Linked DNA regions of Homo sapiens: all the other regions are reported to be linked to region 4. Evidence: microRNA targets listed by miRTarBase, many of them from high-throughput screens and not tested one by one. Region 4 holds a microRNA gene; each other region holds the end of a gene's coding sequence.

What was found. Region 4 holds the annotated microRNA hsa-miR-555 (AGGGUAAGCUGAACCUCUGAU, at 4,262-4,282, shown strand). A microRNA usually pairs through its seed, bases 2 to 8, with sites in the 3' UTR of a target mRNA and lowers its output. Matches are read on the target gene's strand: a 7mer-m8 pairs with bases 2 to 8, a 7mer-A1 pairs with bases 2 to 7 and ends in A, and an 8mer does both.
Region 1: the mRNA of PAX3 is a reported target of hsa-miR-555. Seed matches in the 3' UTR shown: 7mer-A1 at 1,578-1,584.
Region 2: miRTarBase lists UBXN7 as a target of hsa-miR-555. Seed matches in the 3' UTR shown: 7mer-m8 at 879-885.
Region 3: the mRNA of NAP1L1 is a reported target of hsa-miR-555. Seed matches in the 3' UTR shown: 7mer-m8 at 1,876-1,882.

Annotation. Positions count from the first base shown.
Region 1 is chr2:222,195,503-222,202,603 of GRCh38, reverse strand. PAX3 (paired box 3) reads left to right here. Exons shown (of 9, transcript NM_181458.4): 8 at 414-660; 9 at 1,162-2,717. The coding sequence ends at 1,196. Among named protein-coding and RNA genes, the nearest start is that of CCDC140, 99 kb to the left of the region's middle.
Region 2 is chr3:196,350,416-196,357,539 of GRCh38, reverse strand. UBXN7 (UBX domain protein 7) reads left to right here. Exons shown (of 11, transcript NM_015562.2): 11 at 694-7,124. The coding sequence ends at 855. Among named protein-coding and RNA genes, the nearest start is that of TM4SF19-DYNLT2B, 16 kb to the right of the region's middle.
Region 3 is chr12:76,042,035-76,049,158 of GRCh38, reverse strand. NAP1L1 (nucleosome assembly protein 1 like 1) reads left to right here. Exons shown (of 15, transcript NM_004537.7): 15 at 695-7,124. The coding sequence ends at 730. Among named protein-coding and RNA genes, the nearest start is that of PHLDA1-DT, 14 kb to the right of the region's middle.
Region 4 is chr1:155,343,525-155,350,646 of GRCh38, reverse strand. MIR555 (microRNA 555) reads left to right here and starts at 4,202; the gene lies at 4,202-4,297. ASH1L (ASH1 like histone lysine methyltransferase) reads left to right here. Exons shown (of 28, transcript NM_018489.3): 18 at 1,051-1,105; 19 at 1,188-1,320; 20 at 2,743-2,991; 21 at 4,178-4,264; 22 at 6,374-6,464; 23 at 6,905-7,043.

The sequences.
Region 1 (7,101 bases), not on the chromosome of region 4:
CATGTGAAACTTCCAGATATAATGTATGAATAGACATTTTTCTGTATGAACAGATACAATTTCTCCCTCTTTTCATCCTTTTTTCCCCCTTCTTTGAAATTCCAGTCTGATTTTATCACTAGGGACGTGGTGTAATCTCTCTCTTTCCTCTTCTCCTTCCTTCTTTTCCTCTTCCCCCTCTTCTCCCCTCTTCTCCCTCCCCCTTTCCTTCTTCTGCAACTGCAGTCAGATGTTATCGTCGGGCATGATGTAATATCTCTGCCACTTAGAATTGGGTTCATAGTCTCCTGGACAGCTCTTTAACCAATTTCCAAAGAAATAAAAACTGGACTGTCAAGTTATTCTTTCAGCTGTAGGCTGCAATCTGGATCTCTCTGCATTTTAACCTCTTCCCAATCTGGCTGTTTTTTTAGGTAATGGGACTCCTGACCAACCACGGTGGGGTACCTCATCAGCCCCAGACTGATTACGCGCTCTCCCCTCTCACCGGGGGTCTGGAACCTACCACCACGGTGTCGGCCAGCTGCAGTCAGAGACTAGACCATATGAAGAGCTTGGACAGTCTGCCAACATCTCAGTCCTACTGTCCACCCACCTATAGCACCACAGGCTACAGTATGGACCCTGTCACAGGCTACCAATATGGGCAGTATGGACAAAGTAAGCCTTGGACTTTTTAGGGGGCAATTTCTCCTGGAAGGGAGATAAACTCAACTCTTCCTTAAGAAAGGTGAATTAGAGGCAAGATTAAGCCACACATGCCGGTATCAATTTTTTTTTTTTTTTGCAAAGCCAGCTGACTGTTCCAGCAGGGGCTTCCTTGTGTAATTATTTTCTTAACTGATGTCAACAACATCTTGCGGTTATTAATTGTTGAGACGTGAAACCTGATTGCCACTAGGTAAAACACAAGGGTTGGCCAAAATGAAATAATCCCTGACATTAGAAACACATGTTCTTAATGAGGTCAGCTCCAGGATCATATGGGGGATAATCCCAGGGACACAAAGTTGTGTCAAACTTGTCTCAGGAATAAAAATATTAGTCTCAAGCCTTTGATAGCACGGTATTAAATATGACATTGTCAGCCTGTAGCTGATCTTGCCCCTGACTGTGAATTGTCCCAGCATGACCTAAAAAGCTGCGTGTGTTTCCTTACAGGTGCCTTTCATTATCTCAAGCCAGATATCGCGTAAGTGAACTGTCCACTTGGAGCTAAAACTGGCCCTGTTTCTGGTCTTCGCAGCCTAGATATGAAGAATCTGCTCTGAAAACAAAAAAAAATTACCCTTTTGTTGGGGGGGGTGGGGCAGTGGTCCCAATAGGAGACAAAGGAGAGTGATTGATTTTCTTCCTCCAATAGTTGGTTTCAAATCCTTTTGAACACGTTCGACAAAAGCAGTGGAGAAGAGGAAGACCTGGAGCAATAAAAGACAAATGCAACATTTTAAGGCAATGGTTTCACATGGTTACATATCAAAACATCCCAATTCTTTAGTGCTGATCATCGAGGAGCTAGAACATTCCATTTGCTTGTGTGCGTGCGTGCGTGTGTGTGTGTGTGTGTGTATTGAGATTTACCCAGACTGGTTTGGGCAAGCAGACTGTTCTAAAATATAATAGAATACCCTAAAGTATAACATGTCGATGTTCGATGCTGATACTTCTACAACTTTAAAACTGCTCATTTCATGAAGCAAGAATGGAGGAATCCTTGACTCTTACACACTGGAAATTGAAATAAAGATAAATGCAACCATTTTTAGGAAGCTAGACTAGCTGTAAAGGACCTCCTAAATAAATTATTTGTTACTGTATCCTCATTTGTAATCTAGTTGTCAATAAATGGCCCGGACATGTCTTGCTAACAGGATATGGGCTACCAGGAAGAAGGACTTGTTTCCCTTTCCTGTGTGGGGAGAGGTGTGTGACGTTTTTCCAGTTCACATTTATTTGGTAGCCCACCTGGGTTGGAGGAAGGGCACGGTGGAGAGAAAGTGACATGCATTCACATATCTGCTTATCAGTGTGCAATACTGTGTACCTCATGGATGCTTTGGCAATGCCCAAGGCGATATAAGCAAAATCAGAAGTATATTTTTGCAGGTGCTTTTATTTTCACAGCCCATAATTCATAGTGATAGAGTGCAGTGATGTTTGCCATTTGCTGGACAACCAACACCCGGGTTGCTCCTTTGATTAGAGACCAGATCAGATAATTATGCTTTTAAACTGATTACGTTTACATTCTTCTCTTTTCTATGAAAGGCAGGGCAAGAACAGAAGTGTTCACATGGCTCTCATGTACTTTTAAATTATACAATGATATCCAATATTAAAAGATTATAGGAACTGAGGTTTACATACGTTTGTGTGGTGACATTTTAGAATGTCAATAAATTTGCTTTTTGAGATGTTGAGAGGAACAAGAAGGTGGAAGGCAGTGTTATTTATTTCTTTCTATTCTTGGAACCACGAATGAGGTAGGCACAAATACATTCCTTTTAGAGTTAAGAACTATGACGTAGCGAGTTAGTGAGACTAGACATAGTACCGAATTTAGTTCATGCATTGGTCTTAGAGGGTGATGGAACAAGAGAAGTACTATCTTTGTGTTGCAGCCTCAACCAACAACAATGTGTTGTAAAAATGTCTTTCATGTAAAAAGTGCAGTAAATATTTACTATTTATAATGAATAAACAGTTATGAAAACTTGCCCACTACTGCTTTTTTGGGGGAACTGGTGAATGTAGTATAAATGAAAACTTGGCAATGGGGAGCCCAATGTACATGAACTTCACTTCTGGTGGACCCTTTCTATGAGAGTATTCTGTCGACAAATAAGGTTACACAACCCACAGTTGTATTCTCTTGAAGAAGCTTGGTTGAACACACTTTTAAGGATTGAAGTTTATGTTTTTATCAGTGTAGCATCTAGAAAAACCCTTCAGTTTAGCTTCCTTCATCTTTCTTTGGTTCTCTCAGAGTTATCCAGTCCCTTTACTGTCACTTAGAGATATGTTTTCCCTGGAGTACCCGGTTCCATCTTCATCTCTAAGTCATCTCCACGGAAATTTTTATTTAAAACTCTCATATTTTATTTATTTTATTTTAGCAGCCTACTTTATTCTTCATGAAAGGTATTACTGCGTACTTCATTCATTCTTCCTTTCTTCCTTCTCCTTCCCTCCCTCTCCTGATCCTTTCTCCTCTCCCTCCCTCCTTCCCTTCTTCCTGAATGTATTTAATGAGAGTCCAAATGTGCCAGGCATGGTGATTGGCACTTGTGTTATAGCGGTGCTTGTAGCCTAGTAGAGAAGGCAGAGAAGTAAATGCATAGTTTCAATAAAGTGTGAGGACTGTTATTTTAGAAGGAATAATCATAATACCTTTTGAAGCTCTTACTTGTATTAACTTATTTATTACTCTCCACATGTCACATGCAGCAAGTGATGTCACTACCATTCCTTTTGTACAGATGAGAAAACTGAGGCTCAAGGAACTTACATGAATCACTCAGTGGCAGAGCTAGGATTTGAACCTAGTACAATCTCAGTGCCCAAGGTGTTTAAACTCATGCTCTTCTGCTTCCTCAAGACTGGTGTGAGAGAACCTTACAGTCAGGAAGATCTAAAAGGGTGCTGTCCAATTCAGAAGCTACTAGCCATGTATCCCTATTTAAATTTAAAGAAACAAAAGTACATAAAATGACAAAATTAGTTCCTAAGTTGCACTAGCCACATTTCAAGTGTGCGATAGTCACACGAGGCCAGAAGCTGCCATACTGGGGATTGTTGCTGTGGGACATTCCACATCACAGGAAAGTTGACTGGTCAGCTGATTGAATGCACGTGAGTTCATAGTTTAACAATATCAAAAACTTGAAATGCAGTGGGTAACATTTTCCAAAGTTGTAAAATGCTTTATTTTTTTTTTTTTAGCTCACACACTTATCTTTCTGATCAAATGTGTTGCTCTTCTTCTGACAATTTTTCCAAAAATAATTTAAGAGGAAAGGAAGTTAATCTTTACAGCACATTTACTTTTATTGTCTTGTTTAATCCTCACAATGTCCCGTAAGGTGGGTGTTATTCACCCAAACTTATAGATGAATGGACTGAGGCCAAAGCTGTTAAGCAGTTGGGCCAACATTACATATAGCCAGAAATGGCAAAAGAAGGCTTTGACTTCTATGCAACCATGTGGCAGAACCTGTTTGTTTTACCCACTTAATTATATCAGTCTATCCTCATGCCAAACTCAAGTTGCAAACAGGCATTTAAAAAAATCATTCACTCCCAATACATGAGAGGAATGCTGCCAGGATTCAGATTACACAAGAGAAACTCATTTTACATGATCAGTTTTCCTTTCTGTCTCCTGATATCAGAACTTGTCATGAATGGCTTATATCTTATTTTGATATACTTCTTTGTGTCCTTTTCTTATTTCTGCATGTCTTTGAAATCTACTTCTCTGCTGTTACTTCTCATGTTGAAAGTCCCTGTAGATCTTTTTTCTCCAGACTCTTAAAATATCTAATCAATTTCTGGGGAAATGTGACCTGATTTCTTTCAGTCAGAGTTCCTACCCTCATTTGCTGGGACAAGCAGCCCTAAGAACTTTGACCCTTTGACATTCAACAGAACTTGAACCTGATTGTATGTGGGGGGTTCCCCCTTGCCCATGTAGTTATTTGATTTCATTTGAAAAATTAAAAGTAAGAGCTGAAAATTAAAACTCAAATTATTAAATTGTGGATGTACCATTGTCAGCTGCTGAGCCATTCCTTGGCAGCAATTTTTCTAGGAATAGATATCATACATTTCACATCTGTGACAGAAACAAGCATATTGTTTTATGCTTTTGATTTAGCCCAGTCTGGAAATGTGTTTTCATACACACTTGGATGCTTGGGAAACATCCTAGGTTAGAAGGGATCTTCATTAGTGCTGGCATATAGAACCAGAGTAAGAGACAAGATCACTGGCTCATGGCTATAAGTTTAGGAAGTCTTAAATGGAGAAGGAGATGGATTCATTAATGCCTTTTATCTGAATATGGCATGGAAGAATCTATCTGAAAACTACATAATTAAGAGTTAAAATTAATACACAGGACCAGAACCAAAGTATCTATAAAAAGGAAATCTATTTACCTGAGCCTCAACCATTCTGAGTGAATGAGTCTTGGTGTTAAGTCATTCATGGATAAGGAAAGCCGGTGTCAAACATGGTGGGCACAGTAAGTGACGAGTGGCAGTATTTGTGCAAAAAGTTCCACATGGCAAGCCTCAGCCTCAGAAAAGTGCTCATGGAGCTGGAAGTCAGTGGTAGATGACGTATGAGAGAAAAGGAAGAAAACAGAGCTGTGTATAGGACTTCTCACCAGATGGCTGTGATATGAGTTAGTTCTCTTTATTCCATAGATCCCCCTTTGGAATTGCTGACCATGGTGTCCCAAGTGCCTAGCACCATGTCTGATCCATTACAGGTACTCAATACATGCCTGTTGAATAAATGAATAAATAAATAGATGAAAAGTGATTTTCTTATACTGTCCCTACATGATCTTCTGAGCAGGGAGACATTTGCATGACCAAAGGTGCACAGATTGCCACCAGGTTAGATTGGTATGAAGTCTTAGGGAAGGAGTGAGAGGCAGCTGGCCTAACAAGTCACTCAAAAGCCATATTTCTGATGATTTTGACTGTAGCAGAGGATACAAGGTGGTGATGTGTGGGATTCACCACTGGGAGGATTAGAACAGAAAAGGGAAATAGCCAGTTGGTTTATTGCTTAGAAAAGTGACTATTAGCCCTGGCTGTTTAGTAATCTGCACATTAAAAACAAAGAGAGAGAGAGAGAGAGAGACCATTGAGACTACTGAACTCAGAATCCACAAAGACAAATGCCAGGAAAGTTGGCAAAGCAGGAGCTCCGGGAGAAGCCTCTGGCTGCATTGCAACCGTGGCCACACCTGACTAGGTAAGTTTTCTGGGGCTTGAAGCAGTAGTCAGGGCTGTTTACCACAGCACACCTGAGATAGGAAATATGGACACAGCTTAGCCTTATCTTCCAACAAACCTCACTACCCCCTCTCAAGCCAGACGGTGAGACATAGAAAGGCAGGAGTTCTGGCCATGGTGCATGAGGAAGAGGGGTGGAGTTAGGAGGAAGAGTCATGCCAAGTTGGTTGCTGTTGTGTTATGATCCCATCGTTTTCCCAGCTGGAGGCCTACAAAGCCCCACCATGCAAAAATGAGGAATGCTTGAGCTCTTCCCCAAGAGGCGTGGCGACATCTTTTTCCCCAGGCTCATGTGCTTCTGTGGCGTTTGGGAGAGTGTAAAGCATGGAGCTGAAAACCTAACTGCCTTTCCATTCTGCTTGTCTGGCATCCCCCACTCCATGCCGCTGAACATACATAGAGCTCCCGACTCTCAAAAATAATCCCCACAAACCCTGACTCTTTTCACTGCTTGCAGAGTTGAGGGAAATGGGCAGTGATTGTTATTTCCTAATTAATTGCTTAATGCATTGGATACTAACCAAGCTCCTATTGTGCAAGTAGGAGCAGTGGAACTCTAACGGTGAATAAAACACAGTTCCTGCTGTTGAAAGACCCCAGGGCAGAGGAATGAGCTGGATAACTCAGGAAAGAGTTGGAACACAAATAACATGTAAGCAAAAGTTAGTATAAGAACCAACGTGTCTGACGTAGGAGCACTTTTCAGAGGAAGTGGGCCTGGGGCTGAATCTCTAAGGATAAGTGGAAATTTATTGGGTAGATGCAGTGGCAAAGGGCATGCCAATTCACTTTTACATGATGCCAGCTCTTAGGTTATCGGATTAAAGGAGCCAGGAGATCAGACAGTGGCTGGCCCCCACTGATTCTCTAATCAGAAGGGTCCGCAGGCAGAGCCTTCTGAGAAATCCTGGTTGATAGGGTCCAGAAGGTCTGAGATGAGGCGCAGTGGGGCAATTTTTTCTTTCCTAAAAACAGATTGAGAGAGTCTCAATCTCAAGGGCCAGTTAAGAAACTCATGGGTGAGCCTGTAATCCCAGCACTTTGGGAGGCTGAGGCAGGCAGATCACTTGAG
Region 2 (7,124 bases), not on the chromosome of region 4:
GGCCTCCCAAAGTGCAGGGATTACAGGTGTGAGCAACCGTGCCCCGACACCCTCTGTTTTTAACTGCTGGAAACAGAATCTTGAGTCTGACTAGCTTAGCTTAGCTTAGCCTGTGAATGAATCCCTTGCGTCAGGCATTGCTGGCCGTTTGCTGTGGCTGGAGATAATTAGGCTGATTCTTGAAGACTGTGTTACTGAAATGCAAGCAGTGTTGAAGTTTGATGGGAAGCAGAGAGGGAGATGTTGAAGAAACCTGCAAAAGATGGGAATGGTCCAGTTTCTGAGAAGGCAAGAAGAGATTCAGTGCACAGGTGGCAAGATTGGGTGTAGGCAGAATGAAGGACATATCTTCCTTGATAAAAGGGAGAAAGGAAAACGGATAAAATGTTTTAAAATGAGAACAATAATTTAATTTTATGAATAGTGACTGGGTATATTTATTGGGGAGCCAAATAATAACTGTGTATTTCAGTATCACTTAATGGCTGTAAGTAATTGGGGTCAGATTTATCTCCCCGTCCAAAGGTTTATATTGGCCCTTCCCCAAGGGCAAGCTTTGGTTATATGAAAGAAGAACTTACATTTAATAGCTGATCTAATATGATTAAAAAGAGAATGTTTTCTATTTAATTCACTAATATGCTCTTTCCTCTTTTTCCGTCTAATGGCTTTGTCTTTCTCTTGTTTTTATAGGCTTTGGTGAAGCACGTGCAGTCTAAAGGATACCCAAATGAACGTTTTGAACTTCTCACCAACTTTCCTCGAAGGAAATTATCTCATCTGGACTATGATATTACATTGCAAGAGGCAGGCCTTTGTCCTCAAGAGACTGTCTTTGTACAGGAAAGAAATTAACACCATGGCTTGACCTCTCTCAGCTTACCCCTTTTTTCCCTTTTCCTGTGAGATACATGTCACTAAGTATGCATTTTGGCTCATAGGACCACAGAGCCAAAGTTGGGCAAGCAAGTCACCTTCCTTCTCTTATTTCTTGATCTCTCCTATAATCAGTCTCTTTCTCCCCCTTTGTTTCTTTCTCCTCTTCTGTTTTCTCGCTCCCCACTCCGTACCCTTCTGCCTCCCCCTCCCCCCACACTTTTCTTTCTTACCTAATCTGGTGACCAAACTGAAGTGTAAGGATAAGACCTCTCCTAGTACTAGCAGCAGGAATTGTGTGTTCCAGTAAGTGGTCTCTTGCACGGCACTTTTTTGGGATCAAATGTTAACGTTACTCCCCAGACTCTTCGGGCAAAGGAATGGCTAGATTCAGAGTAAGAACAACCCTCCCTTTTTTGTAAGTCCCCGTGTTTAGCAGGGAGAAGAAATTCTCTAACATGGGTTTGGTTTTGTTGTGTTCTTCATGTGGAAATGTCGCTTAACAAAATATCCAGGCTTTTGTTTACGTGGAAAAAGCATCCCTTGTAATGATTGCTCATCATACTTAAAAACCTTTTTCAAAGGATTTTCATGTTCCCAGCTATAAGGACTATTTCCATGACATGTGTTATTGGCAGAATGAGTGTTAAATATGGAGCATATAGCATGGGGTGACTTTCATTGTCCTAACCTGAGACAGTTTTCCTTATTACTCTGTATTGATCCTGCTAGTCCAAGAATGGACATGAAGTGAACCTATCGTGGTGACTGGGATAGGAAGGTGCTTGCTATTTTTGCCAGCACAGCATATTAGTTCCTTTGGAGCCCTCCATTGTCTGAGTCTGCAGTGATCTGTAGGAAGGCAGCTGGTCAATAATCATGTAGTACAATGGCTTGGAATTGTAACCACTATGGTTATTGATTGTCCTGTGTTGTTTCAGGCATACTTAGGTATGTCCCTGGGGAAAAAGAAAACCATTCAGCTGAGAGTTGCTAACCATGTTCTTTTGGTTAGAAATAATGGTTCATTTTTTGCCCCTGGTTGGAATAGTCTCTAAAAGGCTCTGGTGACTGAATTGAACATGAGTCCGCATGCTGTTTTCTTTCAAAAGGTATCAAAACGGAAAGCCTCTCTAAGGGGAAGACCTTTCAACTCCATTCAGAAGACAACATTTAGTAAGGAGGATGGCGGAGGTTACTAGTAATTTTCAGATGTCTTGGGCTTTTTCTGCCAACAAAACCCAAAATCAAATTAGAGTTGGTGAAAGCTTTCTTCAGTGTTTTTAGAAGAGGCCATCTTGAATCTGTAGAATACCATTTACACATCAACTTCACCCTATGCTCATTTCGTATTTTGAGCTTAAATGGAGTCCTCTGAAGGGGGGGTAGTCGTGATTCTGGTGGCAAAACTAGAACTTTTAACTTGTAAAATGAAAAATATTAAATGGACCTTTTTGTCAGTTGAGGATTTAGATTGATTCTTTTATCTGAGGAGCGTATGTTCCTCAGATGTTGCGTAGAGACCTTTAGGTTTTCATCTACTTTAAGATTGCTCTCTTGGCAATTAGGGGATTTGGGAAAAGAAGAAAAAAAGATGCCATGTGTTGCTAGTACACAGTTATAGGATATGGTTTCTAATGGTTGAATTTTGAGGAACTCTCCCTAAAGAATGAGTTTTATATCTCCTCAAGGAAATCATGGAAAAATCTGTTTATTCTTCAGTGAGTCCTTTTGAATTAATGTTCTTAAATTTTTTTCTAAGTCTGTGTAAGTGCTTATGTATAAGTATATAATTGTATAAATATTTATAAATATATTTATATAATTACGGTTTCATTTCTACCTTGAGTCAAAGTTCTGTCTTTAGATTGGTGACTGAGTAATACTTACACTTTGGTGTTTTTTCTTAGGTTCTTGAGGCTTACTTAACTAGCAGCTTCTGATTTATTGAGTGAAAGATGGTTTTCATGTTAATTCCTCAGTTGCATCTCTGAACTTGGATAACATACTTGCCGTTTGAAAAATAGAGCTGTATACTGTCAAAGGTGCACTGGAGGGTAAAACATTTGTTGGTAGTAGACAAGCTCAGAAATCCAAAAATTCAGGGAGGGCACAGGGTAAGAAGAGAGGTTTGCTCAGCTTTGTGCTCTGATGGCACCCATCTGTACTCCAGCAAAGTCATAGCTGAAGCCCAAATCGCTCAAACGTGTGAAGTCAATCATTTTTCCTATAGGGCTCTGTTTCCTTTTCTTTACCTTCTAGCTTCTCTTGATAAAACAGTTGGGAGAACTGCCAACGTGTTCATCAGTGAGAGGGTGTGGTTCTTTCCGATATGTTCAGCACGTGCATATTCATTTATGAGAAACCAAAGTAACTTCTTCAACTCGGGTTACTGTGGGATGATTAAGTAGATATAAAGTGATTTAAAAGACAGCATGGTACTTTCACTCAGCTTAACATGCAGCTGGGATGTCTACAATACAAGATGTGGTGGGTTTTATTTTATTTTATTTTGAGGCAGGAGTGTAATTATCTTAGGGTTGATATAAAGGCCCATGGGAAGAGTTACGGATTGTACATGGGAAGAATCCATAAGGAGTATTGCCTTGCTCAAGAATTTAATCCGCTGACAGTATGCTTCTTCCAGTTTGCCTTACTTCCTCTGCAAGTTTCTTTGCTCCTTAGGGCAGAGGTTTTATTGAATAGATTAAATGAGGTCAGTAAGATTAGTTAAAAATAGTCATTCCTTGTGGGTGTTGGACACAGCTTGAAAGGAGTGTTTAAAAAAAAAAAGCTAGGGAGGAAAAGAACAAGAAAGATAGACTTCGAGAGTGATAAGAGAAAAATACAGGGAGATGGAATGGAAACTACCAGGAAGGCCGGGCGCGGTGGCTCATGCCTGTAATCCCAACACTTTGGGAGGCGGAGGTGGGCAGATCACCTAAGGTCAGGAGATCGAGGCCAGCCTGAGCAACATGGTGAAACCCCGTCTCTACTAAAAATACAAAAATTACCTGGGTGTGGTGGCGTGCACCTGTAATCCCAGCTACTCAGAGGCTGAGGCAGGGGAATGGCTTGAACCTGGGAGGCAGAGGTTGCAGTGAGCCAAGATCGCACCATTACACTCCAGCCTGGGCGACAAAGCGACACTCCATCTCAAATTTAAAAAAAAAAAAGAAGAAGAAGAAGAAAACTAGTGGGAAAAAAGTGAGAGGAATACTTTTTTGAAATTGGTATCGGAAGGAACTGGAGAAGAGAAAACAACAGTGCCAAATGAGAAAAGAACAGGAAACTTAATACTAATTGGCATGCACCAGATACTTTTGTGTACATTTGCCTCTTCAATCTCCCGAAGAATCGTACAAAATGTATACTTTCTTCCCATGTTAAGAAAACAGGTATAGAGAACTTATTCAGGACTCATAGCTAGTGAGTGGCAAATCAGAATTGGAATCCAGAGTCCATGCTGTGGTCTCCTTCAGCAAGAGAATCAAGCTACCCAGATGATTCTCTTCTCATTGTTTGGCTTTGTAAAGTGTCACTTAGTTTTGTTCCCATAAATATAGAGGAAGTAGTTGGGTTAAAGTTGTGGGATTTGCACTATGCCTATACATTTTTATTTATGCCATTATTTTGAGAGGCTGATTATTGCTTTTTTAAAATGATGCACTGGTGAAGATGTGAAAGTAAAATTGCCACGTGGCATTATTTGCCAAGAATAAATGAAAAGGGTAAAAAAACAATTTTTTCTTTTTTTAAACATTTTTCAGAAAAGATACAATTACCTTTTTTAATAGGTGAGCGCCACCACGCCCGGCTAATTTTTGCATTTTTAGTAGAGACAGGGTTTCACCATGTTGGCCAGGATGGTCTCGATCTCTTGATCTCGTGTTCCGCCCACCTCGGCCTCCTAAAGTGCTGGGATTACAGGCATGAGCCACTGCGCCCGATCTACAATTCTGTTTTCTGTGTCCCATCCATACCAGATTATTGAACCCTCTGTGTGTATGTTTTTAAATCTTGTATATAATTCTACTTCCTTGACTTACAAGTCAACAATTAGCTATTGAGTTCTTTATAGAAGTTGGAAGTATTTTGAAATCTGAGATCTAATTCCTGGCCAGGTGTGGTGGCTCATGCCTGTAATCCCAATATTTTGGGAGGCCGAGGTGGGTGGATCACCTGAGGTTGGGAGTTCGAGATCAGCCTGGCCAACATGGTGAAACCCCATCTCTACTGAAAAATACAAAAATTAGCCAGGCATGGTGGCTGTCTGTAATCCCAGCTAATGGGGAGGCTGAGGCACAAGAATCTCTTGAACCTGGGAGGCGGAGGTTGCAGTGAGCCGAGATCACACCACTGCACTCCATCCTGGGCAATGGAGCGAGACTCTGTCTCAAAAAATAATAAATAAGATATGATTCCTGCCTGTTTTATCCAGTTAGAGAGACACACTACACATGAAATAATTGGAGAGCATGTAAATGTTTACCTATTAGTTCAAACTTAGAAAAAGGGAAGAATATGTTTTAGTTAGCAAAGTCTTAAACAAGACTGAAGTGGCAAGCACTGTAGCTCACGTTTTCTTTTGACTCACCTTTTTCTTTAGCTCCACCTTTTGTAACTTCTAGATTTGGGGCATGAAGTTCTGCCACTAAGGCATAACCAGTACCCAAGTAGGAAAGGATTATTGATCCCTGGAGTAAAGATTCCTAGCTTGCGGGGATCTCACTATTGATCCCCCGGAGTAAAGATTCCTAGCTCGCAGGAATCTTACTTGCACACTTAGGGAAAATACCAGAGGGAGCCACTAGCAACCGAAAAATGAAGGAAAGATTTAATTTCTCTACCCAGGTACAAATCCAATGCATAGTATAGTATATGTTATATGCAGAAAGGGCACTGGAGGTGTGAGAGCCCTTTGGGTAACAGCTCTGCTAGTTGTTACCTTCACACTTCTCTTTCTTCTTAATCTCTGGTTTCTCGTCTGAAAAATGAGATAATTGGACTAGATTAATAGTTCTCAGCCTTTTCTAGAACAACAAATTAGATTATCTCTGAAGTCCTTTTCCAAAATTTCATGCTTCCAGTCTCTCCCCGTGATTGCGTATTATCCCTAGGCTAATTAAAAGTGTGCTGGTTAATCAGTTTCTTTACTTTTTTTTTCTCTCTTTTTTTTATTCTGTGTTCAGGTATCATTTGACCAACAACTTGCTCTTAATCTTACTGCGATGACTGAAATCTCCAAAGAGGAGAGTATAGTAGTTATAGGTCTAGTAATAATAATCTTGTAAACAATTCATTATTTTTTAAAACTTAATGCTGTGTGCCTAATCAGTGTTGAGTATGACTAAAATGTAAATGAGAACCAAATATGACACTAACGCTGGCACTAAATTTTATTTTTACTTGTGTACTTAAAGTACTTTACTGGCCTGTTGGGAAATTGATTTGTATAAGATTCACACCTGGTTTTGGCAGAAACAGCTTTTTAAAGATACAATTAGGCTGACTTAAAAATGTTTTTTATTCCACAGAATGTATCTTTATTATGTCATTCTTACCGTCTCTCTGCCTTTTTTGACCATCATGTAACTACGCAGTAGTAAATCATGGGGTGCAGGCTGATGAATTAGTAGTCTTTGTAAAACTAAAATGTAATGAGCATAGGAAGAGACAGCTCTTCTGGTGAACATGGCAGTTTTCCGGTAATACCAGCCTTGATGAATAGGCTAAAGACAGCTGTGTACTATGGACATTCAACTTCACTGGATTGCCTGGCTTAGCTTTTCAGTTATTGTCTTGCCGTGAAACATGGTGTTGCACTGTACACATTTTAGAATAGTGGCAAGAATGTTCTTTAGAACTGCAGATAACCCAACAGAGAATACCATACCAATATATCGGTTTCTCCTGTTACATAGAGATTTGGTATTTCAGTGATGGTTATGGTTTTTGACTCACCTGTGTGTCAGTCCTGCTAGAGAGACAGTATAGAATCAAGAATTTCTTGATGTCTTTTTAAAAATAGAGATTATAATGGCCTTGCTAGTTGTCCTGTGAAGTGACAGACCCTTAATTAGAAATCTTTTAATCCTGCTTTCCATTTTACTTCTCCACCATTTATTTTTAACATTCATTCTCTGAAAATAGTTATGATTTTTAGTGTAATTGGCTATGTTTAAGAAATTCCATTTCAAAGTCTTAATATGTAACAATCTTCATTTTTTATAAAATTGAAGGACATT
Region 3 (7,124 bases), not on the chromosome of region 4:
CTAAAGTAAGAGTTGGTGTTTTTGAATATCAAGTTTCTCTCCGTTAAAGTCTTTAATAAATAAAGCCTATTGACTGGATAACTTTGTTTTTTCAGTCCCACTGGCATTGTGAACAGTACACATAATTTCAGTGGACGTTTTTCTAAAAAACATTGTTTTTTGTTTGGACTTCGTGCTTTTTATAGTTTCAGGTACAGTGAACCCTAGGATTCTATTTTAATGGGACGATTTGTAACAGTTTTTAAGCATTAGAAAATAAAGGTTTTTAAAAGATCTGGTTGTAGGAGTGTTCGGGAACTGGGGAGCAGTGCAGTTTGTTAGATCCTTCCAACTACTCTTACTCAGTCCCTGAGAGTCCTAGTCTATTATTCCTGAGAATTTGTTATATTAGGATTAGCAAAAACAAAGCTGATTGGTAATATAACTAACATAAATTGCTTGGTAACTTTATTTTTTTAAGATTATGGTTTAGCGTGTGTCACATTTTATGGAGTTAATTCTACAGTGTAAAGTTTGAGCTTGATTTTAGCATTTCAGTGACTTGCTAATAAAATAAATAATTTACCACCATTGTCCTATACCATTTCTTTTGACAACAGTGAGCTACTGTTATAATTAAGGCAGTAATTACTATTGAGAAATTCACTGAAGCAGGTAGAAGAAGATAGATTGACTTGTTGTTTTCCTTTAACAGAAGGATCAAAACCCAGCAGAGTGCAAGCAGCAGTGAAGCAGGATGTATGTGGCCTTGAGGATAACCTGCACTGTAATAGCCTAAACACAACTCTTATTTACTTACAGCCTTATGTTTTTGTATTTTCTTGGTAGACTAGGTAATTTTTTTTTAAAGGACAGGAAACTGATATTTTAAAGACCAATTTGTTCTACCTAGCATTTTAACTAGTTTTTCTGCCAGCTATGTTGAATGCACAAATTCTGTCACGCATGTTCATTCATTGCTACATAATTTGGTTCTTCTGGAATATTTTTATGTAGCTCTTGGAGTACAGCTATGAAAATTAACAACTGTTAAAGGAAATACCTTTTTTTTTTTTTTGTAATTTTTTCCTTGAAGAACCAAAGTATTTTTTCAGCTGGTTGTTGAATAGGGTTAAGTCCGCTTGGATTAGCTGTGCCTTTCATTACTTTGTTACAGAAATGCAGTGACTTATACTAAGACAATTTATTGTTTAAAAAAAAAATTGGCAAGACAACTATATGGTTAAGAATTTCCAGTATGACCACACCCAATAACTGTTATTAGAGTGTTAATGGATTATTGTGTTTTAGGTGACATAGTTAACTGTAAAGTAACCTGACTCAGTATAGTTACTGGTACCACAGTGAGGTGAATAAAACGGGATTTTCAGAAGTTAGCCTGAATTTAACTGTATTTTTAAATTTAACCTCCATTAACTAAGCATCTTTTCTTTGTGGTAGGGTCTACCTTCTGCTTCCCTGGAAAGGATGAATTTACATCATTTGACAAGCCTATTTTCAAGTTATTTGTTGTTTGTTTGCTTGTTTTTGTTTTTGCAGCTAAAATAAAAATTTCAAATACAATTTTAGTTCTTACAAGATAATGTCTTAATTTTGTACCAATTCAGGTAGAAGTAGAGGCCTACCTTGAATTAAGGGTTATACTCAGTTTTTAACACATTGTTGAAGAAAAGGTACCAGCTTTGGAACGAGATGCTATACTAATAAGCAAGTGTAAAAAAAAAAAAAAAAGAGGAAGAAAATCTTAAGTGATTGATGCTGTTTTCTTTTAAAAAAAAAAAAAAAAATTCATTTTCTTTGGGTTAGAGCTAGAGAGAAGGCCCCAAGCTTCTATGGTTTCTTCTAATTCTTATTGCTTAAAGTATGAGTATGTCACTTACCCGTGCTTCTGTTTACTGTGTAATTAAAATGGGTAGTACTGTTTACCTAACTACCTCATGGATGTGTTAAGGCATATTGAGTTAAATCTCATATAATGTTTCTCAATCTTGTTAAAAGCTCAAAATTTTGGGCCTATTTGTAATGCCAGTGTGACACTAAGCATTTTGTTCACACCACGCTTTGATAACTAAACTGGAAAACAAAGGTGTTAAGTACCTCTGTTCTGGATCTGGGCAGTCAGCACTCTTTTTAGATCTTTGTGTGGCTCCTATTTTTATAGAAGTGGAGGGATGCACTATTTCACAAGGTCCAAGATTTGTTTTCAGATATTTTTGATGACTGTATTGTAAATACTACAGGGATAGCACTATAGTATTGTAGTCATGAGACTTAAAGTGGAAATAAGACTATTTTTGACAAAAGATGCCATTAAATTTCAGACTGTAGAGCCACATTTACAATACCTCAGGCTAATTACTGTTAATTTTGGGGTTGAACTTTTTTTTGACAGTGAGGGTGGATTATTGGATTGTCATTAGAGGAAGGTCTAGATTTCCTGCTCTTAATAAAATTACATTGAATTGATTTTTAGAGGTAATGAAAACTTCCTTTCTGAGAAGTTAGTGTTAAGGTCTTGGAATGTGAACACATTGTTTGTAGTGCTATCCATTCCTCTCCTGAGATTTTAACTTACTACTGGAAATCCTTAACCAATTATAATAGCTTTTTTTCTTTATTTTCAAAATGATTTCCTTTGCTTTGATTAGACACTATGTGCTTTTTTTTTTTAACCATAGTTCATCGAAATGCAGCTTTTTCTGAACTTCAAAGATAGAATCCCATTTTTAATGAACTGAAGTAGCAAAATCATCTTTTTCATTCTTTAGGAAATAGCTATTGCCAAAGTGAAGGTGTAGATAATACCTAGTCTTGTTACATAAAGGGGATGTGGTTTGCAGAAGAATTTTCTTTATAAAATTGAAGTTTTAAGGGACGTCAGTGTTTATGCCATTTTTCCAGTTCCAAAATGATTCCATTCCATTCTAGAAATTTGAAGTATGTAACCTGAAATCCTTAATAAAATTTGGATTTAATTTTATAAAATGTACTGGTGATATTTTGGGTGTTTTTTTTTAAATGAATGTATATACTTTTTTTTTGAAGAGTGGAGAGTAGTGATGTCTAGAGGGAGCTATTTTGTGCTGAGGCCACTATGTTCTGTAAATATATAATTTTAAGAGCAACCTCACAATCCCTGCTAAGTGGAGTTTATTATTTGAAGACTAAAATGGAATTCCATAGTTCCTGATAGGTTATATTCTGGGTTATTATTCTGAGTTATCTACAAACATTTTTGAGATTTGTCTTTACACTCTGATTGTAGTTTCCAGCAGCCCATGCACACTGCCAAGTAAGTCTCATTTTTTCCTGTTAGAAATGGTGAAATATCATATAATCACTTATAAAGAAAACTGATATGAAAAAATTTTAGAGTTGTTTGCTTTATGGTCACTCAAGTAGGGTAAGTGTTCCACAAATTCCACAAGTTGATAGTTTAACATGGATGTCTGAAAGCCACATATATAATTTCTTAGGATTCTTAAATTAGTAAATCTAGCTTACTGAAGCAGTATTAGCATCACTATTTTAGATTGCAAAAATACCTTAATTGTGTGGAACTGGCTTGTAGAGTGGTACTTAAGAAAAATGGGATTCTACCTCTATTTCTGTTTTAGCACACTTAATCAGGAAAGGATATATTAACTTTCATAAAAATATTTTTGTTGTGTGAATAGGTTAATGATATGGTAAGGCCCCTAAAATAACTGAATTAATTGTTTATTGTAATTGTAGGCCATTCCCATTATTAAAAATAAAGACAAAACTTGAAGTAACTGAAAATCTTATCGTGCTATGTAGAAATATTGAACTAATATTCAAATATTTGAATGCTTTGGTTTCAGGGATTGGTTTAAAATTGGAGTCCTTTTTTATGGGTTAGTCTTACAAAAATTTAAGCCTTTATATTTTTGACTTTAAATCAAAACAAATGTTATTTTAAATGTACAGAATAGATTGGTAGTGCAGAAGAGTGTAAGTTCTTCATAGGAGCTTTAGAAAAGAGAAATATGTGCTAATTCAGTTTTTTTTTAATCTGCACTGTACATATATACTTGGTAATTATGAGCTTGATTTTGTTTTTGGAAATATGTGTTCATAATTTAGGTAATTTGCTACTTAAAGCACTAAGTCTCTGATACCTGAAAAGTACATGTAAATGGTGATGGTGAAATAATACTGCAGTTAACTTAATAGATGTATACTGGTGATTTTTGTATGCTGGATTAAAACTCCAGATATTAAAATATAACCTGGATAAAAAGCCAAGTTCTTGGACTGATTGAGGATCACTTACATGACTTTACAGAAATGGAAACATCCTTGTTGGTATATGAAATTATTTTACTCAAGGATAAGTATTCATAAGAAATTTTGATTGATGTATATTTTCAAAAATACAGTATGCTTTGTATCTTGTGTTTCTTCCTTTTGACATCATATTGTCAGGTTTTCCAGTTTACAAAAATTAAGTTATTCACTAAAATCTTAGTACAGACAGTCCCTGACTTATAATGGTTTGACTTAAGACTTCAGCTTTATGAGTTTATTGGAGTATTAAACACATCTTCTACTTATGATATTTTTGACTTACAGTGGGCTTATTGAGGCCCGACCATGTCATCCTCAAGCCAAGAGTCTGAATAAAAGAAGAAATGGGGTATTTAGAAATAATAGATTACTGGCGGGAAATAAGTCAGTCTGGTTGTTTAATTTTCCTATGGGAAATTGGGCATTTTAAGTTTTGTGGATCCTAGAACAAACTGAGTTTTATTATTTTGAAACCCAGGATAAAATATTACATAAAAGCATTGCTTTTTAGTTTCTTACATGTTTTATCCATTTATTTTTATTTTTGAGATAGAGTCTTGCTCTGTTGCCCAGGCTGGAGTGCAGTGGCATGATCTCGGCTCACTACAGCTGTCATCTCCCGGGTTCAAGCGATTCTCGTGCCTCAGCATTCCAAGTAGTCGGGATTACAGGCGTGTGCCACTGAGCCCAGCTGATTTTTGTACTTTTAGTAGAGATGGGTTTTCACCATGTTGGCCAGGCTGGTCTCGACCTCCTGACCTCCAGTGATCCTCCCACCTCAGCCTCTCAAAGTGCTGGCCTCTCAAAAGTGCTGGGATTACAAGCATGAGCCACCACGCCCAGCCAGTTTCTTACATGTTTTAAACTTAAAGCCAAAAAGAAGGAACTAGGAATGTGTGATTAAACGTGAGTGCCAGAAGTCGACAGATCTCATATCCAGAGTTGAAGGTCTTATTCATAATTTTATCATTCATAATGTATTAGGCAATTGCGGCTCTGGTAAATTTCATGAGGTTGTAAAATAGTTGCTACCAGAAGGCTCAAAATTTGTATGAGCTTTTAGCTGAGATTTTGAGAATCTGTAGGAATTTGTGAAGTGAGAGGAAGAACCTCTGAACGGTGAGCAGTTCAGGTGGAGGAACAGGAGGAAATACAGGCAAAGGTCCCAGAACAGAACAATTGAGGCTACATTCAAGGAATTGAGATACCTGGAAATACAGGTAGAAATACAAGTGGCCAGTCCATAGAAAGTTTAGCTGTGGAAGTCCTCTTAATGGGTTTAAAACACTGGAACCACCTGTTACAAGAGTATTTCAAGTGAGGATGAGGATGACCATTCCATGTAGAAATTTTTTTTTTTTTTTTTTTTTCTGAGACAGGGTCTTACTTCATTTGCCCAGGTTGGAGTGTACTGCTGCAATCAGCCTCTCGAGTAGCTGGTATCACAGGCACGTGCCACCACGCCCAGCTAATTTTTACATTTGTTGAGAGGTGTTTCACCATGTTGGCCAGGCTGGTTTCGAACTCCTGGACTCAGGTAATCCACCCATCTTGGTCTCCCAAAGTGCTGGGATTACAGACGTTAGCCACTGCACCTGGCTGAAAGATAATTTTTAAAGGAAGACATGATTGATAGACCAAGTCAGCCATTTGAAGGTCAGAACATTTGAGGTAGGTGGGCCCCAGGGGCCAGTAAAGGCTTCAGGGTCATATATATGCAACTGAAAAAGTAAGTTAAATGACGTGGCAGCAGCAGTGAACAAGACGCTGTTAGCTGTTAAGATAATTTACTTAGCCAAGAACAAAAGCTTTATTTAAAAAAATTGCTGAATAAAGTTTTATCTGCAGTGAATCCCCTTAGTCAAACTCCAGATTGGTGTTTTGGGGTAACTTATCAATATTACAGCTTTCCTTCAACTCTGAAAATAGTTGAAAGAATTCCGGTATATTCTTTACTCTGATCAACATACTTTTTGGCTCAAAAAGTTTTCTAGTCTTACAGGCGTTTTCTATTTCAGCCCTGGAATGGGCCATTTCTCCAAGGATTGCTGGCTTCTTAGAATAGGGAGTATTACTTAGAAACTTAAGTCCAGTTGCTGAATATGCTCTTTACAGGGTATTTCTAGGGCCTTTCAGGTGAAAGAAAATTTGTACATGTATCATAAAAACTGAACGCACAGTGGATACTTTGAAGTTGAATCAAACAATGTTATTTTTCCTACTGCTACTGCCGTCCGTATTTGTAATTATTTTCAAATAAGTGGAATCAGTTGATCCAACTAGGAAAGTAGATGAGGTTGCTCTATAGGAATAAGAATCCATGAATAAAAATGGAGATCTAATTTTAGACTAAAACTTTTCAGCCCCTAAACAAATGTCTCTGCTACCAAATTTTAATGGATATGTGTGAGAATACAAGTAGTGTCTTTGGGTAGTGTCTTTAAACACAGGCTTTAGAGTCTGTCTACCACCTGTTGGTTCAGCATCAGTCTTTTCATCTGTATTGCGAAAGATCGTGGTGAACATTAATAAGGAAACAAAAGTACTTAGAGCCTATGAGCACTTCCTAAACATAAGAAAACCTAAAATTTGTGATTGGGATTACTTTTTAAATTGGTTTTAGAACTTTATTTCTGAACTAGTTGGGGTTTTCTTGGTTCAAAGGCAAAATTCCTCCTAGGTGTAAGGGATGCATTACTCAGTGTACATAAGAACACTGAGACTAAGACTGGATAATAAAATTAAACATATGCCTCGTTTTGAAGATTTTATGTGTAAAAAACAAAAAAAAAATTGACCTTAACCTAAAGTGA
Region 4 (7,122 bases):
CCATTCCCAGCCAAACAAATTACTATTAATTAAGGGCAGTTAATGAGAACTAGAAAGCACTTTTTGGATAAGATATTCTTTTTGCTATTATAAGATTTGTTGAGTAGTAATTTGCCCTAAGCAGATTACCCTCAATAAGTTCCCATCTCTCATTCTTCACAGGAAGTTCTTCTCATTACCCAACTAACATTGTGCTACCTTTCAAGCAGATGCAACTATATCTTTCATATCCTAGACAATCTTAGAATTGTCATTTGATCCCTGCCTTTATCTACATATCTGAAAAAGTGGCTTTTTCACAGGCCTTAAAAAGACTTGGATTTTTGGCCAGGCGCAGTGGCTCATGCCTGTAATCCCAGCACTTTGGGAGGCCGAGGCAGGTGAATCACCTGAGGGTCAGGAGTTCGAGACTATCCTGGCCAACATGGTGAAACCCTGTCTCTATTAAAAATACAAAAATTGGCCGGACACGGTGGCTCACGCCTGTAATCCCAGCACTTTGGGAGGCTGAGGCGGGCAGATCACGAGGTCAGATCGAGACCAGCCTGGCTAACATGGTGAAACCTCGTCTCTACTAAAAATACAAAAAATTAGCCGGGCATGGTGGCGGGTACCTGTAGTCCCAGCTACTCGGGAGGCTGAGGCAGGAGAATGGCATGAACCCGGGAGGTGGAGCTTGCAGTGAGCAAAGATCACGCCACTGCACTCCAGCCTGGGCAACAGAGCGAAACTCTTGTCTCAAAAAAAAAAAAAAAAAAAAAAGTAGCTTGGCGTGGTGGTACACGCCTGTAGTCCCAGCTGCTCGGGAGGCTGAGGCAGGAGAATCGCTTGAACTCAGGAGGTGGAGGTTGCAGTGAGCTGAGATCATGCCATTGCACACCAGCCTGGGCGACAAGAGTGAGACTCTGTCTCAAAAAAAAAAAAAAAAAAAAAAAAAGACTTGGATTTTTCTCTCACTTTTAATTTGAGGGATTCTATTCTTCCAGTTAGGAGATGCTTGCCTCCCTTGTATGGTGGAATCTTTCTACTAAACCTCACATTCTTTTGCAGATTCTTCCCGGCAAGCACTGGCAGCTCCACTTTTGAACCTTCCCCCAAAGAAAAAGTAGGTTCACATTTGTGGGAATCATCTGAGTTTTTAAAAAGTGCTAAGTGTGCCAGATTGACACCCTGGCTTTGTGTTCCAGGAATGCTGATTATTATGAGAAGATCTCTGATCCCCTAGATCTTATCACCATAGAGAAGCAGATCCTCACTGGTTACTATAAGACAGTGGAAGCTTTTGATGCTGACATGCTCAAAGTCTTTCGGAATGCTGAGGTATTTTTCACTGACTTCAAACAGATTTCACAAGTTTGTTCTGAAAAGAATTAGTCTAGAAGTTTAAGATTTTTACCCTCCTCTATCAGCCATATTTCTGGTTGGAAAAGCCAGTCATTTTTGAGTATCCTTGGGGTATGTGTTACAGTATACTAAATATTATAGAAGGCTATCTATGAAGACATTGATAGGACTAGAATGGAAGGTTAAATCATTCCCCCCCAAAAAAATAATTTTTGTAAAAAACTAATTTAGTATTAAACCTTTATGACTGCGTTATATAGATATTTTAATACATTTAACTAATATCTGTAGTTTCTTTCCTCAAGAAAATAAGTACATGTGAAATATACAGAAATATGCATAGGTAAATGTTTATATGTGTGTGTGTGTGTGTGTGTGTGTGTGTGTGTGTATATATATATATTTTTTTTTTTTTTTTAAATGAGACAGAATCTTGCTCTGTCACCCAGGCTGGAGCGCAATAGCGTGATCTCAGCTCACTGCAACCTCCACCTCCCGGGTTCAAGCGATTCTCCTGCCTCAGCCTCCTGAGTAGCTGGGATTATAGGCGCCTGCCACCATGCCTGGCTAATTTTGTATTTTTAGTAGAGACAGGGTTTCACCATGTTGGCCAGGCTGGTCTTGAACTCCTGACCTCAGGTGATCTGCCTGCCTTGGCCTCCCAGAGTGTTGGGATTACAGGCGTGAGCCACGGCTCCTGGCCAGTAATATATCTTGAGGATGGAATTGAGGAGTATCACAGTGATAGATTATGGAATAGCTGAAGCTCATTGGAGAGAAAGTGGCCTTGAACTGATTTAAAGGACAGGATGGACTATTGTATGGTGCATAGAAGAGAGGAAATTATTCAGTAATTTTGACATGCCTTGGAGAGGTGTTTGGAAGACAAAAGATCCTACTAGATAAAGGAATAATAGAAGTTGAAAGACAAAATGAGAAAGAAAAATAGACAAGCGGGAGAAGAGTTAGAGCAATCTTAAATTGTAACATTCTTCCTACTGAAACCCAGCTTCCACATAGATTCAACACCTGTAGATCTGTCACAGATATCCACAAGACAAAGGTGTATGTTGAACTTCTACAGTACATTATGCTTGTGATATCAATTCATATTTCATGATCTCTGTGTATTTGATCTGGGGACAAGAAGGCCCGTGACAGGAATTGAATGACAGATCAGTTGAGCAAATGGAAAAATAACATGCAGATTCTAACTTGAATTCATTTTAGTTCAGTTTAAGTTGTTACCAACTATCTGGCCATATATTTGATACTATTGAAAATCTGTTAACCAAAATGGGAGGGTAAAGAAAGTCATGCTACCTTGCTACCTCTTTAGGTAAATTGTTAAGCCACATTGAGAGAACCAAACATGATTTCTTTATTTGCTTTCTTCAGAAGTACTATGGGCGTAAATCCCCAGTTGGGAGAGATGTTTGTCGTCTACGAAAGGCCTATTACAATGCCCGGCATGAGGCATCAGCCCAGATTGATGAGATTGTGGGAGAGACAGCAAGTGAGGCAGACAGCAGTGAGACCTCAGTCTCTGAAAAGGAGAATGGGCATGAGAAGGACGACGATGTTATTCGCTGTATCTGTGGCCTCTACAAGGATGAAGGTCTCATGATCCAGTGTGACAAGTGCATGGTGAGGGTCAGGAAATGAAGCAGAAGCTTGGTCCTGATGAACACGGTGACCATATTCAAAGAAGAAGCCCATGCCTCTTTTGGATTGGCTTGAAAGACTGTTTATGAACTGTAACTTAGCCTTGGTTTCTGTTAGGTTTCTGTGTTTACTATATTGCCTTTCTCCTTTTATCTTTCTTTCACTTTATCCTTCCCTTCTTTTTCTTTCCTTCTCTCCTCTCTTCTTGTTTTTTTGTTTTGTTTTGTTTATAAGATAGGATCTTGCTCTGTCATCCACACTGGAGTGTGGTGGCACGATCTCAGCTCTCTGCAACCTCTGCCTCCCAGGCTCAAGCAATCCTCCCACCTCAGCCTCTCGAGTAGCTGGGATTATAGGCATGTGCCACGTGCCACCATGCCCGGCTAATTTTTTGTACTTTTTGTAGAGATGGGGTGTCACCATGTTGCCCAGGCTGGTCTTGAACTCCTGAGCTCAAGTGATCTGCCCACCTCGGCCTCCCAGAGCGTTGGGATTACAGGCATGAGCCACCACGCCTGGCTCTTTCCTTCTTTCTGCCCACTTTCCACTGTACACTTCTCACATAATCTGGATCAAGGAAAATGACAGTATTTCATATAGTGCTTTGCCTTTTGAATCATTAGTGATAATACACTCTATTAATTGAATCCTCTGATAGAGTGAAATATGTTAATACATGTAGGGCTCCTGATGAAGAAGTCAAAGCCTGGATTTGAGCCTTAGTGTCCCCACTAATATATGTGAATGCATAACTTTATGTGTAAAGTGGCTGTAAGTAACGCACAGGATTGTTGGGAGGCTAAAGTTAGACAGGAGTAAATAAAACATTTTGTAGCTGTATTCTGAAAGCAGAATAGCTGTAGCATTTACTTAAATTACTTAGTAATAGTTCAGTAGTCTATTTGTTTTCCTATTCTCTGTCCATCTCCCCATTTTATTTGCCCAGATCTATAGATTATGAGTCAATCGGTATACTTTTGCTTAGAACAGTCATTATTTTGTTTTCCTCCTATTTTACCATTTATCTCTAATTTATCATTCACCCAGTTATCCCTTAGTTCCTCTTTTACTTTACCCTGACCTATTGCTAATTTTTTATTCTGGGCTCCCAGGACACTCTCAATAAGTCATAGCCTCCATGTTCCCCAAACTGTATGTTTTTCTACAGGTATGGCAGCACTGTGATTGTATGGGAGTGAACTCAGATGTGGAGCACTACCTTTGTGAGCAGTGTGACCCAAGGCCTGTGGACAGGGTAAGCTGAACCTCTGATAAAACTCTGATCTATAAGTAGGAGAGGTAGCACATGGTATCTCACCTGTCCTGCTCCTGCTTTGCAGAATTTCCTTTAATAGGTTGTTCAGCCTCTCTGGGCCTTGGTTTCTTAAACTTTACATTAAGGGTCATAATTCTGTTCTTCCCTATTTCAGGAGTATGACCAAAGGGAAAATAAAATACTTAGAAATCTGTGGAAGGAATGGCACTATATAAAACTAAGGTTTTTGGCCGGGCACGGTCGCTCATGCCTGTAATCCTAGCACACTGGGAGGCTAAGGCGGATGGATTGCCTGAGCTCAGGAGTTCGAGACCAGCCTGGGCAACACGGTGAAACCCCATCTCTACTAAAATACAAAAAAAATTAGCCGGGCATGGAGGCGTGCACCTGAAGTCTCAGGTACTTGGGTGGCTGAGGCAAGAGAACTGCTAGAACCCGGGAGGCAGATGTTGCAGTAAGCCAAGATCATGCCAGTGCACTCCAGCCTGGGCGACAGAGCAAGACCCCATCTCTTAGAAAAAAAAAAAAAAAAAGGCCGGGTGCAGTGGATCATGAGGTCAGGAGTTTGAGACCAGCCTGGCCAAGATGGTGAAACCCTGTCTCTACTAAAAATTCAAAACTTAGCCAGGCACAGTGGCAGGTGCCTGTAATCCCAGCTACTCAGGAGTCTGAGGCAGGCAAATCACTTGAACCCAGGAGGCAGAGGTTGCAGTGAGCCAAGATCGCATCACTGCATTCTAGCCTGGGCAACAGAGCAAGACACTGTCTCAAAAAAAAAAAAAAAAAAAAAGCTGGGCATGGTGGCTCACACCTATAATCCCAGCACTTTGGGAGGCCGAGGCGGGCAGATCACAAGGTCAAGAGATAAAGACCATCCTCGGCCGGGCGCAGTGGCTCACGGCTGCAATCCCAGCATTTTGAGAGGCTAAGGCGGGTGGATCATGGGGTTAGGAGTTCAAGACCAGCCTGGCCAATATGGTGAAACCCCATCTCTACTAAAAACTGCAAAAAAAATTAGCCGGGTGCAGTGGCAGGCGCCTGTAATCCCATCTACTTGGGAGTCTGAGGCAGGGGAATCACTTGAACCTGGGCGGCAGAGGTTGCAATGAGCCAAGATCACGCCACTGCACTCTAGCCCGGGTGACGGAGTGAGACTCAGTCTCCAAAAAAAAAAAAAAAAAAAAAAAGACCATCCTGGCTAACATGGTGAAACCCCGTCTCTACTAAAAATACAAAAATTAGCTGGGCGTGGTGTTGCGTGCCTGTAGTCCCAGCTACTCGGGAGGCTAAGGCAGGAGAATTCACTTGAATCTGGAGGCGGAAGTTGCAGTGGGTCGAGATCGCACCACTGCACCCCAGCCTGCCAACAGAGCGAGACTCCATTTCAAAAAAAAACAAAACTGAGGTTTTTATAAACACTATCAGATGTCCATGAAAGGAATAGCTTACAAAATCCAGAACTTGGTACCCTTAACGTCATTTATGTTAGACAGTGGTTTAAGTGAAAAGAGCACTGGACTCAGAATCAGCAAAGGTTAGTGTTAGGCTCACTTCATAGGAGAGAGGGTAAGTGGCTTGCCTAAGTCATTAAGTGGGTTCTGTGCTTGGCTCTGCTATCTTTATATGTGTGATTTTGGGCAAGTCATTTTTAAAAAAAGAAGAGATTTAGGCAGTATTTCTTAACAATGTTGCTGTTGTCATGTTTAGGTGAATAGTTCTTGTTGTGAGGGATGCATTTCAGAATGTTTGGCTTCCTTGGACCCTGGGCATTAAATACCAGTAGCATACCCCAATCATTGTAATAATTAGTCTCCCTTCACACATTTTCATATGGCCCCTAGATTACGTAGAGCAACTACACAATTAGTGCTTCATAAAACATAGATTGAGATACTTAGCCTATCAGTTTTGTCCTCTACCTTCACTTTTCCAGGTTTAACAGCTCTAGTTGCTTTCATCTTTTTTGTATATCTGTGGTATATTGAAATGACTAAACAGTAAGTTTTGATTGAGAATTCTAGGTTGAGAAATAAGTAGGCTGAATGTAGTAATTCCAGCCCTTATACATTGGCTTTCTGCTCCTATCAGGAGGTTCCCATGATCCCTCGGCCCCACTATGCCCAACCTGGCTGTGTCTACTTCATCTGTTTGCTCCGAGATGACTTGCTGCTTCGTCAGGGTATGTATACAGGAGCTAATCCTACTTGTCAGAGGTGACCTTTCTGAATAGTAGGAAGTCTCTGCTGTCTCCATCATAGTCATTGTCTCCATACGGCCTCGAATAGCAATAGAATATAAGTTTTTATATCTGTAGTCCTTGTGCTTACATGCATCACCTCTCCACCAAATAATACTAATTTGAAATGATAGACATGTTACAAAGCTAATTTTAAGACTGGGAAAAACATATAGGAAGCTCAAGAAATGGAATGCCTCCCTTATATTATTGTCATAGTCTAGAATTGATTATCATCACTTAACACTGCTGCTTTTAGCTCTCTGTATTTATACTGTTTCAGATTATGAGTTCTATGTAGACCCTGAGTCAGATAAACAGATGCCTAACAGAATTCATACAAGAATTGTTTTATGTTTCTTCTGTGTTCTGGGTCTTCCTAGGTGACTGTGTGTATCTGATGAGGGATAGTCGGCGCACCCCTGATGGCCACCCGGTCCGTCAGTCCTATCGACTGTTATCTCACATTAACCGAGATAAACTTGACATCTTTCGCATTGAGAAGCTTTGGAAGAATGAAAAGTACGTGCTGAGGTCCTGTCCTTTTCTTCCAGCCGTGCTGTACCAGTGGAGCTGAATGTTCACTAGGATCTTGCTAATC